Linked DNA regions of Homo sapiens: region 1 is linked to region 2. Evidence: fine-mapped expression QTL. A gene starts in region 2. The other region holds a variant in brackets. All regions are shown on one strand. Distances are between the middles of the regions. Region 1 holds the start of ALDOB (aldolase, fructose-bisphosphate B). Region 2 holds the start of ZNF189 (zinc finger protein 189).

What was found. PIP is the estimated chance that this variant, and not a neighbour inherited with it, causes the effect.
Region 1: its variant is fine-mapped to the expression of ZNF189 in tibial nerve (GTEx, PIP 0.98).

Annotation. Positions count from the first base shown.
Region 1 is chr9:101,435,237-101,440,622 of GRCh38, reverse strand. ALDOB (aldolase, fructose-bisphosphate B) reads left to right here and starts at 4,849. Exons shown (of 9, transcript NM_000035.4): 1 at 4,849-4,914. The variant T/C (reference allele first, on the strand shown) is at 2,297.
Region 2 is chr9:101,396,309-101,401,694 of GRCh38, reverse strand. ZNF189 (zinc finger protein 189) reads right to left here and starts at 2,844. Exons shown (of 3, transcript NM_003452.4): 1 at 2,506-2,844; 2 at 1,685-1,811. The coding sequence starts at 2,538. MRPL50 (mitochondrial ribosomal protein L50) reads left to right here and starts at 3,077. Exons shown (of 2, transcript NM_019051.3): 1 at 3,077-3,194. The coding sequence starts at 3,103. RefSeq lists enhancers at 2,844-3,373, 2,906-3,434, 3,435-3,964.

The sequences.
Region 1 (5,386 bases), 39 kb before region 2:
GGGGTATTTTTAAGCCCCACAATTTGGATACTATTGAATTTACTTACCCTGGATACTTGAATATACAAGGCACTCTAGTGTTCCTAGAATACACAGAGTTCAGATTTCTTAGTGATGAAGAGCATCTAAAAAAATTACCACAAGGAAATGAAATGGGACCCATGACTCTTTCATTCTCATATCTGCTGCACCCCAGTGGCTGTTGCTCCTGGACTTCATGGTGGTGCTTTAAAACTATTTATACCGTCAGATTTGGAGCATCTTAAAAACCTACCACATCTCTCTCACAAACTGACATCTAATACTCTGATTCTATGAACAGACTAAAAAAACCATTGGAGTGTACATTTTAAGTGGGTGAATTGTATCTATGTGAATTCTATCTCAATAAAACCGTAAAAGAATTGAAAGCAGAGTCTAAATAAAGATATTTGTACACCCATGTTCATAGCAGCATTATTCACAATAGCCAAAAGGTAGAAGCAACCCGAGTGTCTATCAACAGACGAATGGATAAACAAAATGCAGCATACAATGGAATATTATTCAGCTTTAAAAAGGAAGGAAATTCTGACACACACTACAATGTGGATGAAACTTGAGGACATTGTACCAAGTGAAATAAGCCAGACACAAAAAGACAACAACTCTATGATTTCACTTACGTGAGGTACATAGTGTAGTCAAATTGATAGAGACAGAAAGCAGAATGGTGGTTGCTAGGGGGTGGTGGGGAGGATGAATGGAGAGTTGTTGTTTAATGGTATAGAGTTTTAATTTTGCAAGATGAAAAGAGTTCTGAAGATTGGTTGCCCAACAATGTGAATACACTTAATGCTACTAATCTGAACACTTAAAAATGGCTAAGATGGTAAATTTTGTGTTATGTGTGTTGTACCAGAATTTACTGAAAGTAGGGAGGCTGTGGTTCTTGTGTACCATTGCAAGGCACTACAGCCTGGATTCCTGTGAAATTCCAAATGAGCAATGATAGAAGAGTTTTCAGAACCTAGTATAGTTTTAGAAGAAAGGAATGTTCATACTCTACTTATTATTTATTTCAAAGTTCTCTGGGATGAGAATTATAAGCCAGTTACTCTAGACTTTTCTGAGATTGATACTAATATACACCTATATTGATACTCATATATCTATTGATTCATTTATTCCACAAAAGTTGATTGGTGTCTAGGCATAGTGCTGGATAATGAGGAAACATTGGTAAGACATTACTACCCCCTACCCCCCTAGGTCTTACAGTCTGACAGATTGAATCAATTGACTTGGCCTTGTAAAAAATCTCGAATATTTGGGCTTTTCATAGGACTTTTCTTTAATGTTACTTCACACAGTCATCCATAAATGCTGCAGTGACAACAGCAGCAACAACAACAACAATCTCTTGGTGTTTTTATGTACATTCTTGTATTTGGTTTGATTTTATTTGATTCTCAACTTCAATCTTCTCTTCCTTTTAGAATGCAGGTTTCTTGAGAATAGGCCAGTCTTACTCACCTCGTATCCTCTAAAAAGTCTCCATAGCTAACAAAATGCCTTATACACATAACAGCAAAACACTTTTGAGAGCCATGCTGAGAAAACATAGCTCTATCTCTAGACCAAAGTAATAACTACTGATTTTGGGGTCCTGAAACTATTCCAACCACCAAAGCAGATTGCAATATGATAAGGAAATATCTGTACCACAGTTTGGAAAATATATTTTAAAATGCCAATCGTGATTCTTCCAGTTGCATTGTGTAATGTGGTCTCTTTTTATGAAAGTTCTTTCTCTATAATATTGCTAATTCTACAGTAAGTGTAACTCTATAATATGTGAGATTTATTTGCATGTAGAAGTTTGCTTATGACTCAGACCTCATGTTATGCATTAATAACACATTTATCTCATGGCCTGTGGATTGACTTATATAGATATCACATTCAAACCAGAAGAAATATCTAGAGTTGGGCAGGGAGTAGAGAATAAGCGAGGCTGTTGTTAGAAGTATTGACTGTAACGATCATGAATAGTATTGTTGTTACATTGCCTATTTTAAGATCCTACAATCAAAGGCCTCTAAACCAGTTATGCATTCAGATCTAGCTATTTAATGAAAACCTATTCTGTACAAAGTGCCACTCATATATTATTTCATTCATGCTTCATAATACATTTCTGATAGAGGCATTCCTAGTTCATTTTACAGATGGGGAAACTGTGGACTAAGGTTGAAGAACTTCCCAGTGTTTCACAGCCTCCAAGTCCAATGCTGTTTCCACATATAATACTCAA[T/C]TTTGAACATTGTATTGTGTTAGGAGACTTAACAAAAATAAAAATAAAAACAAAAACCCTGCAAGCAGTGTATGTTGGTCAAGAGTTGCTGTTTCTCTAAGGTCCAGTAAGCCCTTAGCTTTGTTTTCCTGAACTTTGAGTTTCAGTTGCACATCAAGCCCCAGAGGTGGGCAAATGCTGATGCTACAAGAACAGCAGCAAGTGGCAGCACTCAGGGCAGGAGTACTCATGCTGTTCTGACATTCCTAGCCAGGCTGTTGTTCACATGGAGCCATGCCCAGCTCACCAAGGACACCTACGTCTGCTGACGCAAGTCATTCCTCCCTGATTAATGAAAGTTTAATGTCCAAGGTTATAAACTGCTGAGAAGGCAATAGGGAAAGAGCTAATTTATGAGTCTGCAGTTACCAAAATGTAAGCAGCTCTGCTTTAGATCACTGTCTTGGAATGAGACAAACTCTCCAGCTACCTGTACTGTGACTCTAGACAAGTTACTTGCCCTCTCTGAACCAGAGTTTTGTTATGCATAAAATGGGGGTAATAAGCGTTTCTTCAGAGAGTCGCTGATATTGGAGATAATTTATGAAAAGAACCAGGTACATCATAGACTCTCAAAAAAAGGATAGCTATTATTGTTGTATAACAAGAATAATTAGTACTAGTAGCATCTCTCAGCAGGTAGAATGTTTTAGCTATGGTTCTGACTACCCCAGCCCTGACTCCTAACAACTTTCATTACACCCACTCTCTATTCTTTCATCACCATCCACCTCTTGTTCCTCCATTCTCCTTTACCAAAAATCATAGAGGATGAAACCTCACATAGCCCCAAAGCTGGTCACATTGGTCTGACAAATATGGTAGCAGGTGCTTCAATGAGCCCAGTTGAAGATGGGGAAACCAGGAAATGTGCCATCAGATACTAAGTGGAGTCAAGGGAGCTGATAGGACCTTTCCCTGGTCTATCCCTCTACTATCCTCAGGACAGGGCTTGGTGGGAACTTCCCTAGCCAAATGAGCCTCAATATTGTGTTTCAAATACTTCAATTTCCTTCAATATTCACATTCAGTGATGAATACTTACTGTTCTCAGAAGCCTTTGTTTTCAGGAAAAACTTGATGGTGGCTGAAAACATGATGGCTCTGCTTGGAGGGAAATGCTTGTTTTCCTCTCTCTAAGTATAAATGCTCATTCACACCTTTCCTGGCTTTTTGAGAGGTGGCAAAATGCCCAAGATTGATTGCCAGTTACTTGTGTTACCTGAATGAGGCCCTTGTGAGTCTCTGATCTAGGAAAAACAACCAAAACTAAACCAAAACTCTTTTTAGATCACCTAGTTCCGTTTATTTTTTCCTTCATTTTGTTGACATTTCACCTTTTCATCCATAAATTCTGGTGTTACACTCTGCACAATCAAGCATCTTAGTTTTGTTTTCCATTTTATGAATTATTCCAGAGGAACATGTTCATGAGAATTTACCCTTTTTTGTAATTACGGTCATTCCATCACTTTTAGATTTCCCTCATTTATTTGCCTCATTCATCATTTGCCTCTGGAAGCATATAATATTTTTATTTACCTTTTCTGGAATTAAATTTGGGTTTCATACTTAGGAAAAAGCCCTGCAGAATGAACCCATACCCAGACAGTACCATATTTAGGGGTGTTGATGGCTTAGTTCAATCACTTTAATTCTAGTTTTTAACCAAATTTGAAGACAAAAGTACAAAGGTTAAAAGAGAATGGGAATACAAAACAATGATTTCTGGCATTAAATACATCAGAAAGCCCAGCTAGGTTTTGGAGGACTGGAGAAGATGGGAGAGACAATGATTTTTAAAAACAGAATGTTTTGAATTTTATTTCCAATTTGGACAAAATTCACACATGGGAAATTCAAGGATTCAGAATCAATTTCTTTTATTGAAAGATTATTTAAATTTAACTATAAATTATAGAATAAATTGTTGGAATTGACTACTAATGATATACTGAAGATAAATAATGAAAATATAGCATTGATTACCTAATTTGGAAATAATAATTCTTGAATGCCTACTGCGTACAGACACTATACAACTCACTTAATGCTCCTGTGAAATTGAGATCCCACTTTACAGAGAAGAAAATAACGGCTCAGACAAGTAAAAAACAAAACCAAAAACCCGTCACCAAGTTCATGTGTTTTGTAAGTGTTACAGCTACACTAACATTCTTCCTAGTATCATTTAATGGACCCTAGAGCTCCATCATTGACTAGCTGTATGACTTAAGGGAACCTCCTTATCTTCCTTGCCTTAGTTTCCTCATCTGTGAAATGGAGGGTCTGGATTAGGAACTCCACGGTCTAAAGACATTCCTTGCAGCTTTAACATTCTATGAGCATAAGGAGTATATGGGCATGATTTTAAGGACTGGTTGTTTATGAGCCAATCAGAGGTGTTGAATAAACACCTCCCTACTAGGTCAAGGTAGAAAGGGGAGGGCAAATATTGGAAAAAAAAAACATGATGAGAAGTCTATAAAAATTGTGTGCTACCAAAGATCTGTCTTATTTGGCAGCTGCTGCCTCACCCACAGCTTTTGATATCTAGGAGGACTCTTCTCTCCCAAACTGTAAGTAAAAAAGCTTCCTTTGTATACCTGGACAGCACCAGTGAATAAGGGGTTAATAATACTACTAAGCTTATAGAAGGGAAGATTGGTTTGCCTTTGTTTTCGGGAAAAACTTGATGGTGGCTGAAAACATGATGGCTCTGCTTGGAGGGAAATGCTTGTTTTCCTCTCTCTAAGTATAAATGCTCATTCACACCTTTCCTGACTTTTTGAGAGGTGGCAAAATGCCCAAGATTGATTGCCAGTTACTTGTGTTACCTGAATGAGGCCCTTGTGAGTCTCTGATCTAGGAAAAACAACTTGAACACTCCTATCGTTAGGTTCTAATCAGTTTTTGAGATTCCTGTTCATTTCAACTCTCAACTCTCTTTTCATAACAACTACTTATTTTAGTGATTTATTTACATATCTACTGCCTTATGTCATTTTCTACATTCTCTTCCCACACCTACTGGTACCGACACTGAAGTTT
Region 2 (5,386 bases):
TAGAGGCAAGACAAAGGGGCTCAGACACAAGGGGAGGTAAAGAAATACAGAACACACATTAACTACTCTTACAAAATCTTGACTATGAAGAGAACAAGTAGTAAATCATAGGCAGCAGCAAGAGGGAGAGTCTGACTCATAGGAGGGATTTTTTCTTTTTTCCTCTCTTTTCTCCTGTTGAAGAGTTATGAACATACCAATCATCAGAATAAGGGTACCAAGGGAGAAGAAATAGTGACTGAAACTAAAAGGGAAAAAAGAATGACTGATTAGTTTCTGGAAAGGTGAGAAGATGAGAGCAGCTTTAAGTGTGTAGATAAGAGGCAGAGAAGTTGAGAGTTCATGCTTATTGGCCTTTATTTTCTCTGAGAAACAGAAGGTGAGCTTCACTACTTAATGATGGATAAGCTTTTGGAATAGTCACTAAAAAGAACAGGGCAGTGAGCATATCAGTGACAAAAAATATTGCTAAGATATAAAAACCCAGTGGAGAGTGGAAGAAAAAGGCCATACTTATATAAAGGATATCAATCTTTCTGGTTAGAGAATTTCTCCTGCTATGTTTAGCAATTTGGGTAGGAAAGAGAGAAAGGTGAATTTTATAACAAATACAGGATTTGAAGTTTGCAGAATGGGTAGAGAATAATGACAAGCTAGCAAGAGAGCTTGCTGGTGATTAGATGGGGATACAAGCCCAGAAAGGTTGGACACCTCAGTGAAAAAACAGAGACGTCAAGGGACAGGAAACATCGTTAATAATGAATGGGTTTAGGTGGAAAGGAGTAGGAAAGATAGAGAAGTTGTAGTAAGCTCCACAAGGGGAGAAAGCCTGTCTGTTTTGGTTACCCTCGTCTAGTCACAGTCAATAAACTTCCATTTCCGAATAACTGGTCAGAGAATAGGGTATTGGGATTTACGATTTGCCTGTTATGACAAAACTGGTATGATCAATGATGTAAGGTGCTGAGTAAAAGTGGAAAGCAGGGTCCCTGAAGATCCACTGAGGCTGAAGTATTAACTGGGTCATCCATGGCACGAGTTAAAATAGACTATGAAACATGTGACAAAGTTATGTGTGAAGGACCAAACTAAAAGTTGACAGATAGTGAAAAGGAATTGAGTGGAAAAAGCAAGACTGCTGAGACCTCAAAGAAGGAGAGATTTTGTTTGAAGGTGGAAAACTAATGCTTTGGGGACAGCATTTAAAAGCTGAGTGAACAATAACTTCCCCCTTCCAACATTGAGACAAAGGATGGGGAAGGAGGAGGATGTGGGAGAATAAGCAGCCCCCACTTGAAAAACTGCCAGAGAAACGTTGTCCTTGGGATAGTGCCAGGTTTCAGTTAAGGCCAGGAGGGAAGGAACATTATGTGAAGACGAACAGGGGTTCCAGAACGCAGAGTGAAAAGGGGTGGGAGGAAAGCTGTGGGAGGATGAGCCAGGACGGAAAGTACAGAACAATATGGGAATGAGATTATGAAGACAGGATGCCCGAAAGGCTTGCAGTTTGGTCACCTCAAGGAAGCTAGGGATGAGAGTTATGGAAACAATTAATGGCTAAAAGGTTTGAATCAGAACTTTGGAACAAAGCAGTTTTGGTACTGGTTTCCGTCCAAATGTTCTGTTAGTCTGATTTCTCTCTACCTTCTTAGATATTTTAATTAGAGAAACAGCAGATTCTTACCCAGTGAGACCAGGTTTCCATAATTCTCCATCATGACATCTTTATACAGGCTTCTCTGAGCTGGGTCCAGATAATCCCACTCCTCCTGGGTAAAAAACACAGCCACATCCTCAAATGTCAGCAACCCCTGAAATAGTATGATTTCTGTAGTCAGTTCCTGTTGTCTCAAGGACAATTCTACCACTAAAAGTGACAGAGGCAATCACTTATTGTGGCCAAGTAGGCTAGGAGGAACATGATAACTGAAAGTTCCATATGTTGCCCAATTCTGGGAACGAACTGTAACTGACAGACATCTCAGACTAGAAAGGACCTACGGATAAGGCTTTTCTGATTTATTATGCCCTGAGAGTTTAATTTTAGTAAACTGCCCCAAGGCCTCTCCAAGCTTCCCTCACCTCATTGCCTACTTCAATTTTCCATTTGCACTGGCTTGTGACTCTATTCAATTCAATTCCTTGAGGTTCTCTAAGCGTGTACCTTGGGGTCCAGGCACTGTGCCAGGAACAGAAGACACAAGGGAAGGTCAAAAATGGTGCTTCACCTGGAGAACTCACAAATGAGAGAGCTAGTCTGGAGCATTACTTATTTTCTCAGGCCGATTTATCAAGTCTCTCTAGAAAAAGAAAAAAAAAAAGGGAGCCAGTGGGCAGTTTGTTCGCGAACCGCACCCCAATGCACTAGTGGGGAGTTCCTTGCAAGGCGCTGGCCCTAAAGAGGCGGTCAGGAGGTTGGTGGGGGGCCTGGGGGAGAAAGCAGTGGTGCGGCCTAGCTGGGGTAGCGGCGAGACAACCGGGATCCCCGGGGGGGTGCTTACTTACCTTCGACTCCGGCGGGGGGCTCGGGGAAGCCATCTCCCAGGCAGAGAATAGGGGCAGGAATTGGGGGCGGCCTCACGGAAAGGAGCCTCTGGTGAGGCCTACCCGGCTGCTGGAAATTAGGCTCGACGAATACGAGGATCCCTGGCTGGGTCTGGCCAGTGCCTGCCTCGGCCCCCAGACGGTCACGACCCCAACAGCATATCAGACGCGATCCCTGGCTGTCCCCCAACCCCGAACCCCAACCCCTACTCCTGCCTGGTTACGCAGCCTTTCAGGCCTCGCTAGAGCCTCCTCCCCGCTGCCAGTTCCTCCTCCTTGCAGCCAAGTAACGCTATGACCGCCCGCCCCCGGACCAGAAGGCGTCACCCAGATTCTTCCCGAGGCCCCCTCAACTACAACTCCCGTCATGCTCGGAAAGAGCGCCGCGGTCCAGACGCCGCCAGCAACAGCTACTGGACTACATTTCCCAGCGTGCAAAGGGCGAGGGAGCCTACAGGAAAAAGAAAGCTCTTGCCACTGGGATTGTATCCGATTGGCTGGTCTGGGCGCGTCACTGCTGGCTGAAGGCTGCGCTCAGGCCCGTGGATCTCATCGAAGATGGCGGCGCGATCTGTGTCGGGCATTACCAGAAGAGTCTTCATGTGGACAGTCTCAGGGACACCATGTAGAGAATTTTGGTCTCGATTCAGGTAAAGCTTTATGGTGGACGGTGGGTCATGTTCAAGGAAAGTTAAGGAGGATTAGGGACGAATTCAAAATAGAGTGTTACGCCATCGTGGTCCCGCGCCTGATCAGAGCAAGGACAAGGAGGTCCGGTTAGGGTCCCGAGTTGAGAAGCACTCATTGAGTGGTGGGACCCAGTCTCTTCCACTCTCGGCCTTAGTTTTCTCATTTTATAACGGAAATACCACCCCCTTTCCTTTTCACTTCACTCATTCATTTATTTATTAAGCAAGCAGGATTAACCTCGTGTGCGAGACACCGAGTGTGTTGTCTGCAAACACATGAAAGCGCTTGGTAAACTAAACTCATTTGCCGGCTGTGTTTCTTCACAAGCAAGGTTCAGTAATGAAGTACTGCCTCCTCCTTTTGTTTGTTCATTCATTCAGTCATTCAACAGATTTCTTAGGGCCAGCATTACTCTAAGCGCCTAGGATACAGCAGGAAAAACAAAATCCATTCTCATCCTCGAGGTACTCCAACATATGAGGAAACAGGCCCACAGGAGGGAAGTGATTTTCCCAAAGTCACAAAGCAAGTTAATTGCAAAGCTGGATCTAGAACATATGTCTCCTAACTCCCCATCTACTGCTTTTTCTGCTGCACGGCTGCACCATGTGTAATTGTTTGAAGGTAAATCTAATTTGACTTAGATAGTGTTTAGGAAATCAAAACGTATGGTAGGAACCCTAGGGAGCAATGTATGCTCTCTTAGGTTTAAAACAAAAACCACTACAATTAGGAAAGATCTTTTTCATCAGTTCAGATATTAGCTTTCCCTCTTCTTTGGTCAATATTTGTTATTATCTCTCAAATCTCTTCCAAGTTTGTTTTATTCATTCACTCAACAAATATTTTTTAGGCTGTTTACTATATGCCAGGCTATATCTTAGGTGTTGTAAGAATACAGTGGTTACTAAAACAGACCAAATTTTTGTTCTCGTAGGGCATATGTTCTAATGGAGGAAGAAATGAACAAATGTGTAATGTAATTTCAGAAAGTGGTAAATTATGAAGAAAACTAGAGGAAATAGATTACTGAGAATGATGATTATATTTTCTTTACTATTTTAAAAATTTTATATATTTAAGATATACAACTTGATGTTGATTATTAGTCAAGATAATTATCATATTCATCTCTTCACATACTTTCTGTTTTGTTTTGTTTTAGAGAAAGGAGTTCTCACTATGTTGCACAGGCTGGTCTTGAACTCCTGGACTCAAGTAATTTTCCCACCTTGGCCTCCCAAATTGCTGGGATTCCAGGGGTGAGCCACCACACCTGGCCAGTTAGAATTTTTGTGTGTGTGGTGAAAACACTTAAGATTTACTCTCAGAAGATTTCAAGTATACAGTACAGTATTATTAATGATCGTCACCATGGTGTACATTAGATCTCTGGAACTTATTCATTCTACATAATTTAAATTTTACCTTTGTCCAACGTCTCTTCATTTCCGCCACCCCTGGTAGCCACCATCCTACTCTCTGTTTCTATGAATTTGACTTTTTTTTTGTTTGTGTTGGAGATGGAGTCTCACTCTGTCTCCAGGCTGGAGTGCAGTGGCGCTATCTTGGCTCACTGCAACCTCCGCCTCCCAGGTTCAAGCGATTCTCCTGCCTCAGCCTCCCGAGTAGCTGGGACTACAGGTGCCCGCCACCACGCCCGGCTAATTTTTTTATTTTTAGTAGAGACAGGGTTTCTCCATGTTGGCCAGAATGGTCTCGATCTCTTGACCTCATGATCCACCTACCTCAGCCTCCCAAAGTGCTGGGATTACAGGCGTGAGCCACTAAACCCGGCCTAATTTGACTTTTTAGATACTACATATAAGTGAGATCATGTGGTATTACTCTGTCTGGCTTATTTCTCTTAGCATAATATTTTCCAGGTTCATCCATGTGTTACAAATATCCTTTTTTAAGGCTGAATAAAATGCCATTTTTTGTGTGTGTATATATGCAAGCACATAATATATACATATATTCATACATAGGTACACATATACATATAGACACACTTATGGCATTTTATTCAGCCTTAAATATTGTGTATGTGTGTGTATACATGTATACATTTACATGTATACACACATGCTGCAATGAAGATGAGAGTGCAGATGTCTCTTTGAGATACTGCTTTCATTTCCTTTGGATA